3 separate regions of the Homo sapiens genome follow, and regions 2 and 3 are each reported to be linked to region 1. Evidence: microRNA targets listed by miRTarBase, many of them from high-throughput screens and not tested one by one. Region 1 holds a microRNA gene; each other region holds the end of a gene's coding sequence. Distances are between the middles of the regions.

The links. Region 1 holds the annotated microRNA hsa-miR-1207-3p (UCAGCUGGCCCUCAUUUC, at 3,704-3,721, opposite strand). A microRNA usually pairs through its seed, bases 2 to 8, with sites in the 3' UTR of a target mRNA and lowers its output. Matches are read on the target gene's strand: a 7mer-m8 pairs with bases 2 to 8, a 7mer-A1 pairs with bases 2 to 7 and ends in A, and an 8mer does both.
Region 2: the mRNA of ENTPD4 is a reported target of hsa-miR-1207-3p. Seed matches in the 3' UTR shown: 8mer at 2,679-2,686.
Region 3: miRTarBase lists DCAF16 as a target of hsa-miR-1207-3p. Seed matches in the 3' UTR shown: 7mer-A1 at 3,057-3,063.

Annotation. Positions count from the first base shown.
Region 1 is chr8:128,046,513-128,052,923 of GRCh38, reverse strand. MIR1207 (microRNA 1207) reads right to left here and starts at 3,772; the gene lies at 3,686-3,772. All of the region lies in intron 6 of PVT1 (Pvt1 oncogene), which reads right to left. RefSeq lists a cis regulatory region at 3,381-3,633, enhancers at 3,512-4,057, 2,577-4,693 and a silencer at 4,246-4,429.
Region 2 is chr8:23,427,955-23,434,365 of GRCh38, forward strand. ENTPD4 (ectonucleoside triphosphate diphosphohydrolase 4) reads right to left here. Exons shown (of 13, transcript NM_004901.5): 12 at 6,363-6,411; 13 at 1,208-5,200. The coding sequence ends at 4,972. Among named protein-coding and RNA genes, the nearest start is that of ENTPD4, 26 kb to the right of the region's middle.
Region 3 is chr4:17,797,627-17,804,037 of GRCh38, forward strand. DCAF16 (DDB1 and CUL4 associated factor 16) reads right to left here. Exons shown (of 3, transcript NM_017741.4): 3 at 3,029-6,411. The coding sequence ends at 5,865. Among named protein-coding and RNA genes, the nearest start is that of DCAF16, 9.9 kb to the right of the region's middle.

The DNA of each region.
Region 1 (6,411 bases):
TGGTTTTACCATCTACTGTCTTCATAGGAGAGCTAGACCACATTACTTAGCCTTTGTGTGCCTTGGTTTCTTCATCTGTAAAATGAAGTGACAGTATATCTCAGTTGGGTCTAATGAGGATAAAATAATTTGGTAAACATAAAGAACTTAAAACTGTGCCCTGCACATAGTGTGACAACAGCACTGGTTTTTATTGTTATGACTGTGGTAAACACAATTGACCTCATTCTTCCCCTTACAGGATCCCAATCTAGTGAAGGAATACAGATGTGAAATAAACAAAACTAAATGTATCATTTTAAATAATACTATGAAGAGAAGAGTAATGTGAGCAAGATGGCAGAATAGTAGTCTCCAGTGTCTATCCCTTCATAGAAACAGCAATTTGAACAACCACCCATGAAAAATATACCTTCACAAGAGCTAAGAAATCCAGATGAGCAATTACAGCAGCTGGGTGGAGCATAGAAATAATAAAAGATGCATTGAAAAGGGTAGGAATAAGAGTTTCACATCACTCACATCACCCTTCCCCCAAGACAGCACAGTGCAGCATGAAGAGAGAAACCCTTCATGTGGAGGAAGGAGAGTGAAGTAAGCACCCAACATCAGTGTAGATCCTAGTACCAGGTTGGCCTTCACAGACGCATGCTACAGACATGAACACAGTCAATAAAGCCATCCCACTGTATCTCAGTGCCAGTCTGGCCCCCAGGGACCCAGAATCTAGGCCTGTACCCATGGACTCAGGCACCAGGCCAGCCCGCTTAAGAATTCCAGCAGTAAACTTGCCCTCAGACCCTGCCAGCCAATCCACCCAAAATATCTTGACTGGTGAACAGCTTTCTTGGCCAAAGCTAATTGGTAAAGAATAAAAGAGATCTCTACTTCTTAAAATATGTAGACATCAACACAAGACCCCAAGGGTTACAAATAGACAAGGAAACATGACTAAAAAACAAACTAAAGCACCAGTAACCAATCCTAAAGAAATTGAGACCTATACATTGTCTGACAAAGAATTCAAAATAATTGTCTTGAAGAAACTCAACTTAAAGAGAACATAAACAACAAAATCAGAAAAACAATACATAAACAAAGTAGAAGTTCAACAAAGAGAGATAAACCATAAAAAAAGACCCAAACAGAAATTCTGGTGGTAAAGCAAAATGACTGAACTGAAAAATTCTATAAGGAACTTCAGCAGCAGACTTGATCGACCAGAAGATGGAATCAATGAGGTCAAAGACAGGCCATTTGAAATTAGTCAGAAGAATAAAAAGAAAAAAAAATGAAAAAGAAAACCTATGGGACTTATGGGACACCATCAAGTGAACTGAAATACACATTATGGGAACTCAAGAGGAGGAATAAAAGCAGAGGAGAAGGTGATAGAAAGTTTATTTAAAGAAAAAAATACATAGAACTCTCCAAATCTGGAGAGGAAAATAAACATCTCAATCCATGAAGTCCAAATAATTTGTAATTTATTAAACATAAGGAGGTCTTCATTGAGGCACATTAAAGCCAAATTCTTAAAAGTTAAAGATAAAATTATGGGCATCCATCTGAAGGGAAGAGTCCTCCTCTCCTTGGGCACAGAACTTCCCCCAGTCCCCAGTCAGCACCAGGTTCTCAGCTACCTATGTCTTATGCAATCCAGGCTTGGCACAGATTCCCAATAATGCAACCTCCTCACTGGATGATAGGCTATGTGAAGACAGAATCTTCATTTTATGCATCCTTACAACTCCAGTGTGAAGCACAGACACAACATATCATGTGCACTCAATCAATTTCGTTCAATGAAAGAACAAGTGACTCTCTTTCATTCTCTTGGAGTTGAATACTCAATCGTCCCATAAATGGTTCCAGTGCTCAAGCTGAGAATCTTACACCACAGTCAATGCCCTGAAGAAATTGAGACTGTGCTGGGAAGTCAGACACAAAAAGAAAGAGATGAGGTCCACTCTTGCTGTCATACATGAGGAACTAAGAGTCTTTCAAACAGAGGAAGATGACTTTGTGGCAGAAAAACCCACAGAGGAAGTGAATGATGGAATGGAACTTGAGGACAGGTGGAGTTTGAATAATCAGTGGGGTAGTCAATTAGAAGGTTAGGGAAAACCCCATTCATTTATCTGACAAGTCAAGCCCCAGTAGGAGCCTTTAGACAGGTTCTTCTCACAAGAACCCTGCAGGTAGGAACTATCAGCCCAGGTTAATGTCAAGGATACAGAGGCTTGGAGTGGTGAGGTGACATTCCTAGGGTCACAGAGCCAGCAACTGTTGGAGCTGAGGTCTGAACCCAGCACTCTCTGAAGCCAGAGCCCATGGATCTCTCAGGCATCCAAGGGAGAAAAAACAATGGGATCAAAGCACAGACGTCAAGGAAAGCAAGTAGTGTTTAAAAGACAAGAAGTGAGACCTGTTTACCAGAACTGATTCCCCACATAAGAGGCTCGGAGGCATTCAGTCTTTATTCACAGGCTGGAGTGATGTTGCGGTGGACTTAATGCCCCCTGAGAGGTCTGACTTCAAGCCTGTGGGTGACACGGAGCTACTGTTTTTGAGTTGGACAGGGACATGGTCAGAACTGTGCTTTCAGAATTTGGACTTGGCCACTGGAAGAAGAGACAGTTAAACTCAAGTTGCCCAACATGAGGCATGGGATGGGAGAGGTTGGGGAAGGGATGGAAGGAAACAGAGTGGGCACCAACAGGAAGGAAGCAAAGTCAGGAACTGCTGGCTGGAATGGGTCCAGGGAGAGGGAAAACCACTTCTCCTTCCTCTTCTTATGATTGCAAGATTAGTACTTGAGAATTAGGCTGCACAGGCCAGGACTTCCCAAAACTCAGGAGGGAAAGAGCCCAGAGCACGTGTCTCCAATGGAGGCTATAGTTCCAAATCACGTGATCATCGGTCATCTCCTTGCCCACCCTGAAGCCCTTGTCCCCAGTGTACTTTGGGCTCAGACAGTCCCTCAGGGGATACAGCAGTGTCCTTTCCTTCAGCATTCAGGGCAAATGAGAGGCAAAGAGATCAATGGAATGCAAAAGCGTTACTATAGATGAGAAGTCGGACGCACAGAGAGGTTCCACCACTTGCCTAATATCACACAGCAAGTACATGCCAGAATCAAAATTCAAACCTAGAGCCCCGGTGTAAACCTTACCTGAATCAGTCAGGGAGCAGCAGGGAGGCAGTGGAAGGATAGGCCCCCTGACCTCACTCCCCGCCTGCCTTCCCATCCTGCCAGTGCCTTCCAAACTGATACCAGAGAGCATGGCAGCCCTGTGTTGCATCCACCCTGATAATGCATCCACACAGGTCAGCCTTCTGGGCACAAAACAAGGCAGAGAAGAGCAAGGAGTGGACCTGGAGGGGCCCACGGAAGCTCCCCAGCACCCACCACTCCAATGGCCCAGCCCCTGGTAGGTCTCCAGTGCCCTTCACCCTACAGAGCCACAGAATCCCCAGACCTTGACGCTGCAGCTAGGGCCCGCCTGCCTCTCAAGAGAAGGGCAGGGCCCCACACAGGCAAGTGCTCTGCCTCCGCGCAAAGCTGGGCATGCGTCATCACACTCCCGCCTTCCTTCCTCATTCACTCTCCCTTGCCCTGCTTCTATCAGTGGCTCCAAGACGCAAACATCTCGAAATGACCTGCTTCTGTGTAGGTCAGCTAACAGAAGTGCTGTCTTAAGAAATGAGGGCCAGCTGATGCCCACTACCAGACCCAGCCAGCCCCTCCCAGCCTCCCTGCCAGCCCTGCACATGGAGGCCTGGCGGCCAGGAAAAAGAAAGGGCTCCTATCTCTGATTCCTCAGGGCCTCTGATAAGAAATGTCATCCCTTGCTGGGTAATATTACCAAGCCAGATAAAAATCTCTATCAAGCTTAAACATATGGCTGGCTGCAGAACACAGAGTCCAGTGGAGAAGGGTAATTTATTTGCTTAAGCTGAAAACCCTGGGCAGCCGAAAGAAGTGCCTGAATAAAAGAGTAAGAGCCAAATTATAACCTCTTCTGACTTGGCATGGGGATTTTTCCCTGGGAAGGATGAGACACCTGAGAACAACAGGGGGCTCTCCACACATTTCTCCTGACACAATAAGCGCTTTCGCCTTCCTCTTTCTTCAAAGGGCACTTTCACTTATGCTATCACATTTAATCCTCACTACAACCTCAAGAGAGGCATTTTTAGCTTCCTTTACAGATCAGGAAATTGAGATTCAGCAAGGTTAAGTAAAGTGGCCAAGGTCACACAGGCAGCCATGCTGGAGCGAGGACCCAAACCCCAGCAGGTCTGACTCACCATCAGATGGGGAAGCTGATCCCAGCTTCTGGGGAGGATCGGCTCATACATCCACTTAATCAGCGAAGTCAGATCTGCCCAACTTAACTGACAATGTCAGCTACACATTGTAATCTTGAAGGTCCATTTCAAGGCTCTCCCGTCTCCTTGTTTCTCTGTAGCCTAAAGGATAATGAGAAAGCCTTGCAGAGCACAGAAGCTCAAGGAAAAGGACGGGAGGCCAGGGATAGTACCCAGGAGAGCAGTGAGTGACCTCAGGGCTTAGATTCCAGCCTCATATGCTCAAGGAGTAGCAGGTAGAAGGAAACTGTGGAAAGAAAACTCCTCTCTCTGTTCATTCATTCATTCACAAATATTAGTGGAAAGCCTATTGTGTGCCTTCTCTAGCTTGGCCTTGGAGATACCAATGCAAATGGGCAGGCTAGGACCTGCCTTCATGGATCGTCTGTCTTCTAGAACTGACTTACAGGTCAGTAAAGAGGCAATAGCCACAGAGTGTGTTAAGTGTGTTTGTGAATGCAGAAGTTCACGTAACTGATCTGGGGTTGGTGGCTGTGCATTAGTGTGTAGCTGTTAGCATACTCCACACAGTGTTCTAGGCACTATTCTTTAAAAAGTCAGCATTGTTAAGGTTGACTTTGCTCTTTGGTAGTTAATATAGCTTCAAGATTGTTCCCAATTACTTCATATAGCCACTAATTTTTTTAGATTAATTTTTAATTCACAAATAAAAATTGTATATATTTATAATATATGATGTGAAGTTTTGAATGATGTATACATTGTGGAATGGCTAAGTTGAGTTAATTAACAGGTGCATCATCTCACATACTGATTTTTTTTTACTAATTTTTTAAACAGCTGTATTAGTGTTCCATTTTATCACAACTTAATCAACCAATCACTAACTAATGAGCATTTAAGCTGAGTCTCGTTTTTCTGTGTCAAACAATGTTGTAATGAAGATTCTCTTCTCATCATGCATGTGTTTCTGCATGAAAAGTTCTTAGGATTCGCCCAGTGTTTTTTAAGCTTGGCTTTTCCTGTGCTCTTCACTGCAGCAGTAGCAAGGTCTCAATAGCGTCCTTTACAAGATAATGGCTCCCACGCGCCCATCCTCTTCAGACCTGGTGGGGCTCTAGTAAAAGGGTTTTAGTTCTCTTTAGTGAGCAACTGCCACCATTTCCACAAAAGCACACAAGAAAACAAAAACGTTTCCATTCTGGTGGCCAAGAAACCACTCCTCTTATCCCTGCCTCCTCTGGCCCATGGTGACTTAGTTCAGAATCAAGCGGAACTTAGCAGCAAGACACCAACCTCTCTTCTCACAGGTCATTCCTAGAAAGTGTCAGCTTTCCTTTTCTTCTGGACTCTGAGAGATTCAAGAACACAGAAAGCCCAAGGCTAGCAAATCTCCACTGAAGCTCAGCATACATCAAAAACTAAAGCCTGGTGGAGAAGGCACAGCAAATGTCAACTGCACACTTGGGAGCCCAAAGTACCTTGGAGGAAGGCATCAGTCGTCCAACAGAACACCTTTGGATAGTCAAAAGATAAAGAGAGTATGACTCCATGGCTGGAACAAAGTAGAACCTCAGACAAGAGGACATCCTGTTCATGAGAGGTTGGCCATCCACTGAAGACACTGTGGGGGACCGTGAAGGCAGAGCAGACATGAGAAAGGCAGAGCCCCACTCCTTGGTCCCCTGGAGAAAACCAAAGAAAGGGCTGTAATCTACGTGATTAGAGATGGAGAAACTAAGAGCCTGGGGAACAAAGGAAAGGGCCTTACTCATTCTTCCTGGACAAGTTAGAGAAGAGGATATTTGAGTTAGATATTGAAGAGTGAACATTTAGAAGACAGAGAAAAGGGAGAGGACCTTCAGATGGTACTCACAGAGCAGTGTGGCATGGAGAGTGAAAGAATGTTCAGCCAGTGGCCAGACTGTAAAGGGTATTTCTCAGGTGCTGTGCTAAGGAGCTGGGCTTCTCCCTCCAGATGCGATGGGGGGCTGTGTAGGCTCCAGAGCAACAGAATGACAGATTAGAACTATGCTTCTCCATCACCATGGAGCACGAACTAGTGAGAGAAGACTC
Region 2 (6,411 bases), 100 Mb from region 1:
TGCTGCCACGGATGGATGCTCCAGGCAGATCCACTCTGCCAAGGCGTGCTTTGGGATTAGCCGGGCACTCCTTTGTCTTTTCATGACGTTTCCAAAAGAAGACACTGTGACTCTGACAGAGGTGACCTGCACCTCACGACCCCCTCTGTGCAAACCATTAGCATTTCCGGATCTCAAAAAAACCAAAAAAACCCACAGGGCACATGCCAATTCATAGGACAAATGGAAACAGACTGAAAACAAAAACACAGAACCATGGCTTTTCAGACCTGTCAACATGGTTAGTGTTGGAAATAGGCACTGACTTCTCTTCCACCAAGTGGAATAAAAATTTAGATGTCTTTTAACATCTTAGATATTTTAACGTATTTAAAGTCAGGCAAAAAGCCCTATAGTCATTGCACTGCCTCAAAAATTATTTACGACAGTTCTATCTTAATGCTGTGTCCTGTTTTCCTAGCGATCAATGGCTTGAGGACCTCCCTTGAGCTCACTTTGCTGGCTCTGTTCTCTCATTTTGTTTTTGCGCTTCCCTCTCCTCTCCGGCATGTCTCAGGCCTTTATTTTTGTTGGTCCTAACAGCTGGTCCCCTTCCCTTCCCATCTGTCTCTATCATCTATTTTCAGGTTATGGCTCAGGCCCACCTTCCTGCTCCAGGAGAACATCTATGTATTCTCCAACGGCTGAGAAACATGCTGAGCGTCTAATGTCATCCTCCATATTGGTAACACGTAACATTAATAATGACAGTCATAATTTTCTGGAAGTAAGCCAAAGGTTCTAAGCTTAGATCGAACTGCAAAACAGTGTAACATAAAGTCAGCATTTGCTGTTACTATTAAATACATAAAAATTGGTTAATTTTATTACTTTTCCTTGTCTATATACAAGTAGGTACTTAAAATGGTGACCTTATAAACAGTCATCTCAGAGTGGCAATTATTGTTGGTGAATGGCTTAACGTCGTGGGTTGGTCACTACTTGTGAAATATCTGCTTTCTGAGCTGCAGAGAGTGTGGACGCCCTCTCCACAACCCCACACAATTGTGCTTCACTGTATGCACACCCAACACAACACATGCAAAGAGTGTGCGTCAGACTCAGACAATGTATTTCACTGAATTTGGACTCAAGTTCAACTCATCATTCTAATGAGTAAGAAGATTCAAAGATGACAAGGAAGCAAGCCCACACAGTCTACGGGCCATGGGATGATGAACTTTCGTTTTATTGATTTTTCAGTACCCAAGTGTGGCACTGTAAGGCTGCCACATACAGCAAGTGACATGACACCAAAAGGACCTTCCGAGAGTATTATTCTTACTTTGGATGGAAGACATCGCTTAAACAAAAAACATTTAAAGATGCTCCCTTGCTTTTTATAATTCCTAACTGTAAAATATAATTTTAGTACAGAACAAACAAATTCTCCTTGGTTGGTCACATCATTCATTATTGAAAGGGAAACTTAGTATCAAAAGAAACAAAACACTGAAATAAATAACTAAGTAATTTACTGAAAGGTAGTTTTGTTGCATTGCACACAACTGACCGCAGAGAATTCTAAAGCTGATTTTTTTCTTAAAGGATGAAAAACTCATTTGCCATTTTTAGTTTCTTGCTAAGTGATACATGCTCCTTATAAGGAAAACTACTCTGTGTAGGCCTGAGTTTAAAATGTAAATATCTGTTTATCCAGAGTTTGTTAATCTAGAGTACACAGATGTGGAAAACTGGTGGTGAAAAGAGGGACCTACCCAGCCTTCAGGGTGGCTGGGCAGGGGCCCCATGTTACTGGCCTCAGCCACCAGCAGCGTCTTCACTCCGCCCAGGTCAGAAAGCACTGCCTAAAGCCGGAGCTTAGGATGAACATGGGCAAAAAGCACTGGTACAGTTCCATGTGTTTCTCTTCTACTGTAATGTCCCCAGAGGGATTGTGAAATGTCTGAGAACATCCCCTGGAGGAGGTTTAAAAGTGAGAAGCCCATGATATGGCTATGGAACATAAGCACTTATTGCTGGCATGTTTCTACCAAGATTGAACACAATGCTTTTCTTTGATAAAGCTTTGGGCAAGTTCCTAGTCCAATTTCTTCTGCTACAAGTACACAGAATTTACTGCCTTCTTGGTCAGCTCTTGGTATGAATTCTTCTCTTGAATTAAGATCCTCCCTGGCTTGTCTCTCACCCACCCTGTATCTCTTAGAGAAAGCACCTGGCTGTCTTCACCTACGCGAGACCTTCTCTGGAATGTGATTTGCTGCGACTGCAGACATCTCCATACGGCATAATGAACTCCCTTGAGTGGTCTCTTTTTAAACAATTTTGGGTGAGGGGCAGGTTTCTTGGTTTGTTTCAAAACTCATCTTGAAAATAATCTAGACGGAAAAATCCGAAGTGAAATTCTGGTGCAACAAATATTTTAAGATTGAAGTTTGGTTACTTCTCTTGTCCATCTTTTCGTGCCCACAAATGGAAACTACATTCCTGATTTAAGAGGATGCTTCTGTCTGTATCCTTTTTTGAACTGCATTGTTCTCACAAGGACCAGCAAACTTTTTCTGTAAATATTTTAGTAAATATTCTAGGCTTTACAGGCCACATATAGTGTCTGCTGCATATTCTTCAACGTTTTTTCTTAGGCAACTGTTTAAAAATGGCAAATCCACTACTACCTCTCAGCTGGAGCAATGAGGTTTTCTCAGCCCTTGTTTCAGGATCCTCAGGTATGTGACTAACTCTTCTATGCCCAGAGCTGGAAGGCGGGGTCCCCTAACTCCCTGGGTGCCCACCTGCCCACTTCAACCATTTGTGGCCCCTTCCTTTCCTTTCTTCCCTCTCTGCTGCTGACACCAGTGGCTCCATCGCCAGCTCCCTGCAGCCTCCACCAATAATCCATGGCTCCTCCAGGAAGTGTCGCAGGCAGGTGGCCAAGACCAACTTATTAGGTAGCCAGAAGCTCACCCCTTTCTTAACAACTTTGACCACGAAGCGCAAATACGATGCAGGTAAATCCAGAGGCAGAGCCTGGGTCCCCAGGCTGCTGGTAACACGCTTTGAAATCCAGGTGAGGGAGCCATGCCCCCACAGCTCTTGCCTCAAGGATCAGATGCATTTTACCTTCCAGAGACGCAGGTTAAGCTGCACCTGAGGCAGTTTGAGCCACAACTGGGACAGAATTCCCTTGGTCTTCTCTTCTGATCCCTCAGCAGAACTGCCCCTAATGCTCAGTTCATGGCAATACAGGCCTTTTCTCTCCTGTTTCTCCAAACTCTCCCAGCCTCTGCCCAGTACCTAGTTCCAAAGCCACTTTTATAATATCCTCAGTTATCTGTTATAGCAACAACCCCACTTCTGGGTACTAATCTGCTACCAACTACAGGAATTTAACTGTTCTGGAGTTAGGGAACAGCACACACAGACACTCGCACAAAACAAACTCCACCTAAAAAAACTGTACGAGAATTCCCCAAACTTCTCAACTAAATAAATAGGTGAAAAAACACCAATCTCACATATGCCAATCCAATTGTCCTTTTTAGATTTTGGCTTAAATTGTCGAATTTTTTCCTTCAAAATGTGAATTTATTTCCTGTATTGGATGCAGACTCTTCCCTTCTGGATTTACAGTGGTGCTGCCAGCAACAGCCTCAGTCAATGCGGTTAGGAAGAGGACTCGGCAGGCTGTGCATGGGGTCTCCCAGTACGATTAAAAGCTGAGATGACTTTTAATTAAGGGGGGTGGGGGAAACACCAATTGGAAGCTGGAAGAAACTGAGGCACGATTAAGCAGAAACACTGAGGAATACTGAGCAAGAAGTGGGCATGTGCTCTAGTTCCAATAAAACCGAAACTGGTGAAACTAGGAATTTCCAATTCTTTCAAAACCACAGTGTTCTAATGCCACTGAAATATGGAATAAGGAGCGTAATTACCTGCGGTCAGGAAAAGATAACAGTAACGAGGATTTTTCTAAATAAAATGTACCAGTAAATTCTGAAGTGTGTGTTTTTAAAGAACCAGCATTGCCTCCCCTCACGCTGGTTTCTTGGGATTTTTCACACACTCGCACAAAGCTGTAGTCGATAGTTCACTATCACTTTTATAAATGGTTATCTCCTGGTGCCCATGTTTCTCTGTTTTGGATATAAATGGTTTAAAAAATTTAAATTTGCAAAGAAAACATATACAGTAACAGACCTGAACAATAAATAAAAAAAAAAATCACCCTCTTCAGGTTAGAGCTTTCAAGATAGAGAAAAAAGAGGATTATCATTTCAGGCAGTAAGTTTTTTGGTTCTATGAAAGCATCACTATTCAGTCCCCTCTCCACTGACAGAATGCATCTTTCCACCTCCCTCCAGTATCAAAGTGCATGTGTTTAAATTTAACATTCCTTAGAGAAACCCCAGAAATCTCATTTATTTTTGGCAGATATCCTGTGCAGCAAAAATCAAGTGAATTTCCCTCTTCCCCACTCCTCAATTTAATGCTGTACTCAAAATGGCTAAACGCAATACTTCTAGACAGCAGGGCTTATAAACAATGCATTTTTTTTTTTTGAGACGGAGTCTCACTCTGTCGCCCAGGCTGGAGTGCAGTGGTGTGATCTCGGCTCACTGCAAGCTCTGCCTCCCAGGTTCATGCCATTCTCCTGCCTCAGCCTCCTGAGTAGCTGGGACTACGGGCGCCCGCCACCACACCCAGCTAATTTTTTGTATTTTTAGTAGAGACGGGGTTTCACCGTGTTAGCCAGGATGGTCTCGATCTCCTGACCTCATGATCCGCCCGCCTCGGCCTCCCAAAGTGCTGGGATTACAGGCGTGAGCCACCGCGCTCGGCCTGCATTTTGTTTTTGTTTGGAGGAACAAAAAAGGGAAAGAAAAAACAAAACCACAGGAAAATAAAGAGGAGAAACCCTGAGGCAAAAATGGCTTTTCCTTTTGAGTCTTCGTGGAGCTGTGAGCTGGATCACAAGGTCCCCGGGGCATTCTGGGCGGGAAGGCCCTCCTCCATCCAGAGGGCGGCGGCCGAGCTGCTCCGGGGAGTGCGCCTGTGGATGCGCCGCAGCCGCAGCAGGTACAGCAGGATGGCCAGCAGCACCACCAGGAAGCAGCCAGAGAACAGGTAGTGGTTGTAGACAAAGGAAACGCCCCGCCAGTGGGTGTGACTGGCTCGGAAGGCCTCCTGCTGGATGTCTCTGCCCATGTGAACACCAAACAACAAACAGGACAGTAAGCAAGGAAAGGGGTGGAAAGGGTGCACAGGGGGACGGCGGGACCCAGGCCCCAGAGCTGCACTTTAGGAACTGCAACCCTACCTCTGAAATGGAGAACGGAACAGCCCAATGCAGGGGGCTTCTAAGTATCAGTGAGATAACATGTGAAAGTATACTCTGAAGTCGGTCATTATAATTTGGGCAACCAAAATCAGAGGAATTTAGAAGAGCCGTGAAGGTTTCGCTGATACAAAGAAGTCAACATGTAAACAAACTGCATGCTTGTGATCAGTAACACCCATGACTCACCATTTTTACAGTTAACCCAGTTAAAAGGGTTGCTGAGAAATGCTCAATTAAATGGAGGGGGTGGGGGGAAGAGCAAATGTCTCATCTATCAGGTAACTCAGGTTCTTAGCACAGGTCAACTGACAGCAGATCTGCAAACGTGAATGGGGAAAAACGCACATCTTTGTTCTACCCAAGCGCTGACTGAGATGTAGCATTTCTTTGACCATGAATGCAGACAACAAACTATCATTAGCGTTGGCAGCACCTGCAACTTTGTTACTAACGAAAATCACAGATCTTTCATGTCCCATTATGGTATCATCAATGCCTCAAAATATCATTGACGCTCATTGACTACACTGAAATTACAGAAAGTGCTAATTCTGCTGCCAGATCCTGTTATTTAATGTGTTAATAGAGAAGAACACATATTACAGTATCACAAACTTGTTTTCTGTAATATTTTGGTATTATTTCAATATGATGGTTTCTTCTGTAATCCTATGTATTTATACATGCATTTAAACAGTATTTGGAGAAGAGGCCTGAGTCATAAAGGTTAAGAACCCCGGAACTGACCCTTTTGCCGGGGCTGGGGAACAGACAGTTGAGAATAACCAAACACAGGGCAGTAGGACAGGAGTGCTGTGTATTACGGGATGGTAGGGTGAGAAGGGAGGAAGCACTTGTGGGGAGGGGGCAAGACCAAAAGCAAACGTCACTGTCCCTACAATTCTGCCGTGGCCGGCTCTAACAGCAATGCCCCAAACAGCCACAGACCACAGCTGCCATGAGGTGCTGTAACTGCAGAAAAGCATCTTTTTGATTCTCGTTCCCAAATTCACAGCCCTACCTTAATGGTAGAAAGCGGGTCCTGTAGAGGATGGCTCCAAGGGTCCACT
Region 3 (6,411 bases), not on the chromosome of region 1:
AGTTCTTCAGGTAGTGGCTGCACCCTTCTTTCACCAGAGCTCTGCCAGTCTATCAGGCCATTCTGGTTACTCAGGGTGCAACCAGAAAGCCCACCTAGGGTCTTTTTTGATGGAAGATGGCCATGCCCTTGGGCTGTTCCACTTGTTTGGGTACCTCTCAAAGAAGTTGCCCCTACTGGTCCATTGCTTAATTAATTTATTGTAAACCAAAACCATCAGCTGATACATTGGAGTGTCAGGTGCCACAGCTGATACCATAGATGGAAGGGTAGTATCAGGCATAGGCTGAGCAGTTAACCCAAACTTAACAATTTCTCCCCAAATAAAACTATAGTACCAGCTCCTTATTTTGCAACACTCATTTGAGGAGTTTCATCTGGTTTCTGTTGCTAATTTGAGAAACTAGCTTGGTTTATGTGTATACTAGGAAGTCAGTTTTAATCTTGTTAAGCTAACCAGTATCCTGAGTCCCTCCTGAATGATTGTTGTTATATAGAGCCTAACTCCCCTAATGATCCCAGGAATTTTCATATCACGTGTCAGAATCTTCCTAAATAAACTGCCCAAATTCCAGTCAACTTCGTTTTATGATTCAACTTGAAACTGTTGCTAACGTTTTTAACTGACTCCACAGTTTAGAAGAAATAACCCTATCGCTGTCTTCCTGTTACACTGTTATTTTCCTTTTTTTTTTTTTTTTTTTTTATACCAGGTACCAGTGTAACACCAGCACTTTGGGAGGCTGATGTGGGAGGATCACTTGAGCTCAGGAGTTCCTGACCAGCCTGAGTGAAACTGCCTCTACAAAGAAATACAAAAATTGGCCTGTGTGGTGGTGTGCACCTGTAGTCCACAGCTACTGATGAGGCTGAGGTGGGAGGATGGCTTGAGCCCAGGAGGTCGAGGCTGCGGTGAGCCAAGATTATGCCCCTGCACTCCAGCCTAGGCAAGAGCGAAACCCTGTGTCAAAAAAATAAAAAAATAATAATAATAATAAAAGAAAACCAGGCATTCATTTTCCAGAGCTCATTGAGAATAGCTGGTCATAGCTCTCACAGAAGATGGGAAGCCAGCAAGTGTCAGGTCACTGTGGTATATCCTCATCCTTTCCATTTCTTGGTCTCAGTTGCAAACTTAAGTCTCACTGCGGCTGCTAATTGAAAGGAAGAGCTTGGCAAACTGCATGGAATTAGCAGACTCAAATATGTAGTCATTAACTCAACTGTATTTAAAATTATTTGAGACACATCATAGACATTTTTCTTTTAGCAACAGCAAGTTGACATAGAAGTACTGGTGGTTGGTCCAGCTAATGTAACTCCCTCAGTCCAATGGGTATCACTGGCGGACAGATACGTTACCAGCTTGCACAGTTAACTCATGAAGTCTGAGAAGTTATCCATACTTCTCAGGCTGTTCTATATGTCCTAGCTACCTGAGCAAAACACTTTTGGCCCTGATCTTTGTGCCACTACCTTGTGATTAGCAGATATAATTTAAATCTGGATACAAAATATCTATATATTTTCTCCATTTCCTTGGCTGAGTATCCGTTGTGGGGGTTTAATTGAAGTCTGCCCTCCAGATGAATCTTCATTATACTTGGATGGCTGCTCCATTCAATTCTTTTATATGATTCTCCACTATAAGCTATTTTCAATATGTGAAGGGCCAACATATGGATTAGGGTTTAGGTTTATTTAATATGACCCTAGACAGCAGAAATGGCTTGGGGTAACATATAGGTTCATATATTTTAAAACTAATTTCCTATGTGTAGTAATCTTATTTAGTTTTGCATTCCCAGTGTCTGCACTAGAGTAGGCACTTCTCCATAGCAATATTGGATGAATGGCTAAATTTCTAACAAGAGATATTTAAAACTAACAGGCTGCTCCAAAAGACATATTCTCTAACACTGGAGCCAAAAGTAGAAAGCCAGATGCAAGCCAACTTACGCATCAGAAAATAACCCAAGTGACTTCTAAAGTCTTTAAATGCTTTAGCTATTTACACTATCAAAACATTTTCATCAGAGACTTTTTTTTTAAAATATGGACAGGTGTGATAGAAGACCCAGCAGGAAGGGCTTCTATCCCCTAGAGGGGACCTATCATATGCCCTCCTGCCATGCATGTATGGATTTTTTTCTTTTCTTAGGAAGCAGATGGGATTAAAAGACGTGATTATGGTCTTTGAGGCTCAAGGTATCTGGACTGTTTTAATAAAAATGTTGCCTATGGCTGGGCACGGTGGCTCATGCCTGTAATCCCAGCACTTTGGGAGGCTGAGGTGGGTGGATCACCTGAAGTCAGGAGTTAGAGACCAGCCTGACCAATTGAGAAACCCCATCTCTACTAAAAATACAAAATTAGCTGGGCGTGGTGGCACATGCCTGTAATTCCAGCTACTCGGGAGGCTGAGGCAGAATTGCTTGAACCCGGGAGGTGGAGGTTGCAGTGAGCCGAGATTGCGCCATTGCACTCCAGCCTGGGCAACAAGAGCGAAACTCCATCTCAAAAAAAAAAAAAAAAAAAAAGTTGCCTATCTGCACTGAGAAAGTAAAAGACAGTTAATGTCCACTGGTTTAGAAATAGTTTCCTTACTCCTTTGATAAATATTTCTATAAATAGAGGATAAAATAATCTTTTTATCTTAATTATGGTGACTGCATTTAACAGAAGCCAACATAGGGAGTGCAAAGGTAGTAAATTCATTCCCAAACCCAGTGTTTATGCCACACAAAAAGTTAACTTAAGGCTTATTTAGGTACCTGTTATTTTGTGCAACCTGGAATTACTTAAAATACATAAACAAATAAGCTCACTTTGAATCTTGACTGAATATCAGACATTTTCTTCTTCAAGTGTGTTTCTTCTCTAGAGACGCCAAGTCATCTCCTGTCAGACATACTATATAGATTCAGGTACTGTATCTATTAACTCTATTCAGTACTTAGTGAATGTAGAATATGCCTTAAGCAAAGTAGGATCTATTTCATTTGTTGAGGACAAATGACCATACTCTGTTCAGCATGTACAAAGCTATTGGTTTATTCAGCTGCCAAGCTGGGGAAAGGCTTCCTTTCGAAGTGAATAGCAAAAATGCATTCATGAGCAAGGCACTTTTATACACACACAGAGAGAAAAAGGAACGTATTATGAACACATGAACATAAACATATTTTAATATTCAGACCTCTTCCCTACCTCCTCCCACCTCCACTTAAACAAACAAACAAAAAAAAAGGAAACAGTTTCCTGTAACATTTTAGAAACCAGTTTCACAGAATACCTACATAGGAACAATTTCTGATACATTCAGTTACACTAACAATATGATATGGTTTCAGGTCAATAATTTCCACTAACAAATACTTTTATTCTACAATTCCCTCTTTTTTCCTTTAGACAAGACAACTAAGGCTCAGCAGAAATATTCACTAGGTTATAAGCATTCTTCTCTCTTCTTAAAGTTGCTATATATTTACACAATTTGTGATTCCTAACCTTTTTTTTTTTTGAGACGGTGTCTCACTGTTGCCCAGGCTGGAGTGCAGTGGCGCGATCTCAGCTCATTGCAACCTCCACCTCCCAGGTTCAAGCAATTCTCCTGTCTTAGCCTCCCAAGTAGCTGCGATTACAGGCACATGCCACCACGCCCGGCTAATTTTTATATTTTTAGTAGAGATGGGCTTTCACCATGTTGGCCAGGCTGGTCACGAACTCCTGATCTCAAGTGATCCACCTGCCCTCAGCCTCCCAAACTGTTGGGATTACAGGCATGAGCCACCATGCCTGGCCTGCTTCAATTTTTTGATGCCACTTTGTAAACGGCACTTAATTATGGAAAATAGGAAAAAGCAAAACTAAAATAAGGAAGAGGATATATATATAACTTTTCACAATCTCTTTTCTGATTCCCTTTAGATGCCCAGTCAACCAGGACCACACACAGATTTCATTTTATTTGTAGAGTATATGAAAAGATTTAATAGTCTCATGCATTTTATTTTACGTATACTGATTTCTACGTTTTGACTGACTATTTAAATAAACAAAACAAGACTCATTTACAAGGGCATATACTCTTCCTTGTTTGGCCAGAAGAAAATCTATAGCTAAATCTACTTAGAAAAACAATGCTGCTAAAACTCTTAACTTCAGATTGTATTAGGCTGAGATTTTCTAATAACAAGGTTCTTTAAAATTAGAAGGGTTCAATCCCAGCACTTTGGGAGGCCGAGGCAGGTGGATCACGAGGTCAGGAGATCAAGACCATCCTGGCTAACACGGTGAAACCCTGTCTCTACTAAAAATACAAAAAAATAGCCAGGAGTGGTGGTGGACGCCTGTAGTCCCAGCTATTCGGGAGGCAGGGCAGGAGAATGGCACGAACCCGGGAGGCAGAGCTTGCAGTGAGCTGAGATCATGCCACTACACTCCAGCCTGGGCGACAGAGCAAGACTCCGTCTCAAAAAAAAAAAAAAAAAAAAAATTAGAAGGGTTCCTGAAAAGTTTGCAATGGATGTGGAAAGTACTTGAGCTTTTACTCCAGGAAATGCTATACAGATTAAAATTTTAATCCATTAGCAGTTAATGCTGAAAGCAGAAATGCTCTCTTAATCATTTTTCCATTCATCTTTTGAAATGTTATTTACTCTTGACAAAAGTCTGAGTACCAAGATTCAGGAAACACATTCCCTACAGAACAGGTGTTTGTTTAATCCCAAGGGATGATCTTATAGGCTGATTTAGTCAGAGACAGCCTGGTGGGAGACTCCGATATAGAACGTTCATGCTGTAATTTTAAGTACCATAATAAGTTTGTAGTAGTATAGGCTAGGCTTAAAACTGCACTCCTCCTGCCTCCCCGCCCCCTTCCAAAAAAAAGAAAAAGTGAAAGGAACTCTAAAGAGTGTCATATGCAGGCACATCTATATAAAAGCTGGGAAAGAAATTCATATCCCTGCCATTTTCCTTTGTGTAGTTACCCAGTTTAATTCAACTACCTCAAAAAAAAAAAAAAAGAAAAAATAAAAGGAACCCTAAAGAGTGTCATATGTAGGCACATCTATATAAAAGCTGGGAAAGAAATTCATAGCCCTGCCATTTTCCTTTGTGTAGTTACTCAATTTAATTCAACTACTTCCACAGAAATGTATGTTAGAGAAGAGTATGCTCAGAAAGGTATTATTGTGGGTAGCTAACTTCTTGCTTTCAACAATGGCTGTTCTAAAGTCTGGATAACAAAAGGGGTGGTGGTCTACTTTTCTTCATTAATAATCAGGTATCTCATTAAAGCCATTCAGAAAGGCAGAGTAAATTGGGGTGGGGAGGGTGAGAAGTGAGTGTGAAGAATATTCAACTATCTTTTGTAATATGGTCCCCTTAACTAATTCTCCTTTTTTTTTTTTGAGACTGAGTCTCGCTCTGTCACCCAGGCTGGAGTACAGTGGCATAATCTCAACTCACCGCAACCTCCGTCTCCTGGGTTCAAGTGATTCTCCTGTTTCAGCCTCCCGAGTAGCAGGGATTACAGGCGTGCACTGCTGCGCCCGGCTAATTTTTTTATTTTTAGTAGAGACAGGGTTTCACTGTGTTGGCAAGGCTGGTCTCAAACTTCTGACTTCAGCAGATCCACCCGCCTCAGCCTCCCAAAGTGCTGGGATTACAGGTGTGAGCCACCATGCCTGACCTTGATATTATCATTTTATCCACAGGGTTTGTCAAAGGGTATCCTCATTGGCTTGCCAGGGCATAAGAGAGTTTGACTGAGAAGGCATTAGTGGGCTGTGTAATGACTAACTTTGTACCACTTTCTCAATTAGCAACATCAGAGATATCAGAGCAAATGGTAGATCTTTACAGTGATGCAGTTAGGAGTTTGTTAACTGCCTTTTGGAAGTCAGTGTAAGAATAAGTAGTGTTGATGGGTTCAGTACGAGTTGTTTCCTTAACTGTTTTAGTCAGCCAGCCACAGCAACACCCAGAAACACATGAATTAGGGATCTGTTTTAGGTATTCAGGTATGGGAGTGGCTCTACTCAATGTTCGGCTTAGCTGTTTGGTGGCAAATTGCAGTGCTCCATTTAGAGTGGCATGATCTCTAGAGAGCCGGCTGGGACTTGTAAGAGGCTTTTGAAAAGGTGGGACTCCACAAGAGGCCAGAGGGGGCCATTCAGGAATTGGTTCCAGTTTGGGGACACAATGGGAACAATGGGAGAGTCTTAGACCTATCTCTCGAAGTATATGGACTGGTGTGCTTGGATCCAACAGTTTAGCATGATACAACCAGGAATTAGGATTTAAAGGTTTCCAAGTTGTGGAATATTTTAAAAGGCACTTAACCTGCCAGGCAAGACTCTCAAGAGGCGATAAGTTGGGCACCATAGAGTCCTCTTCTTCAGAG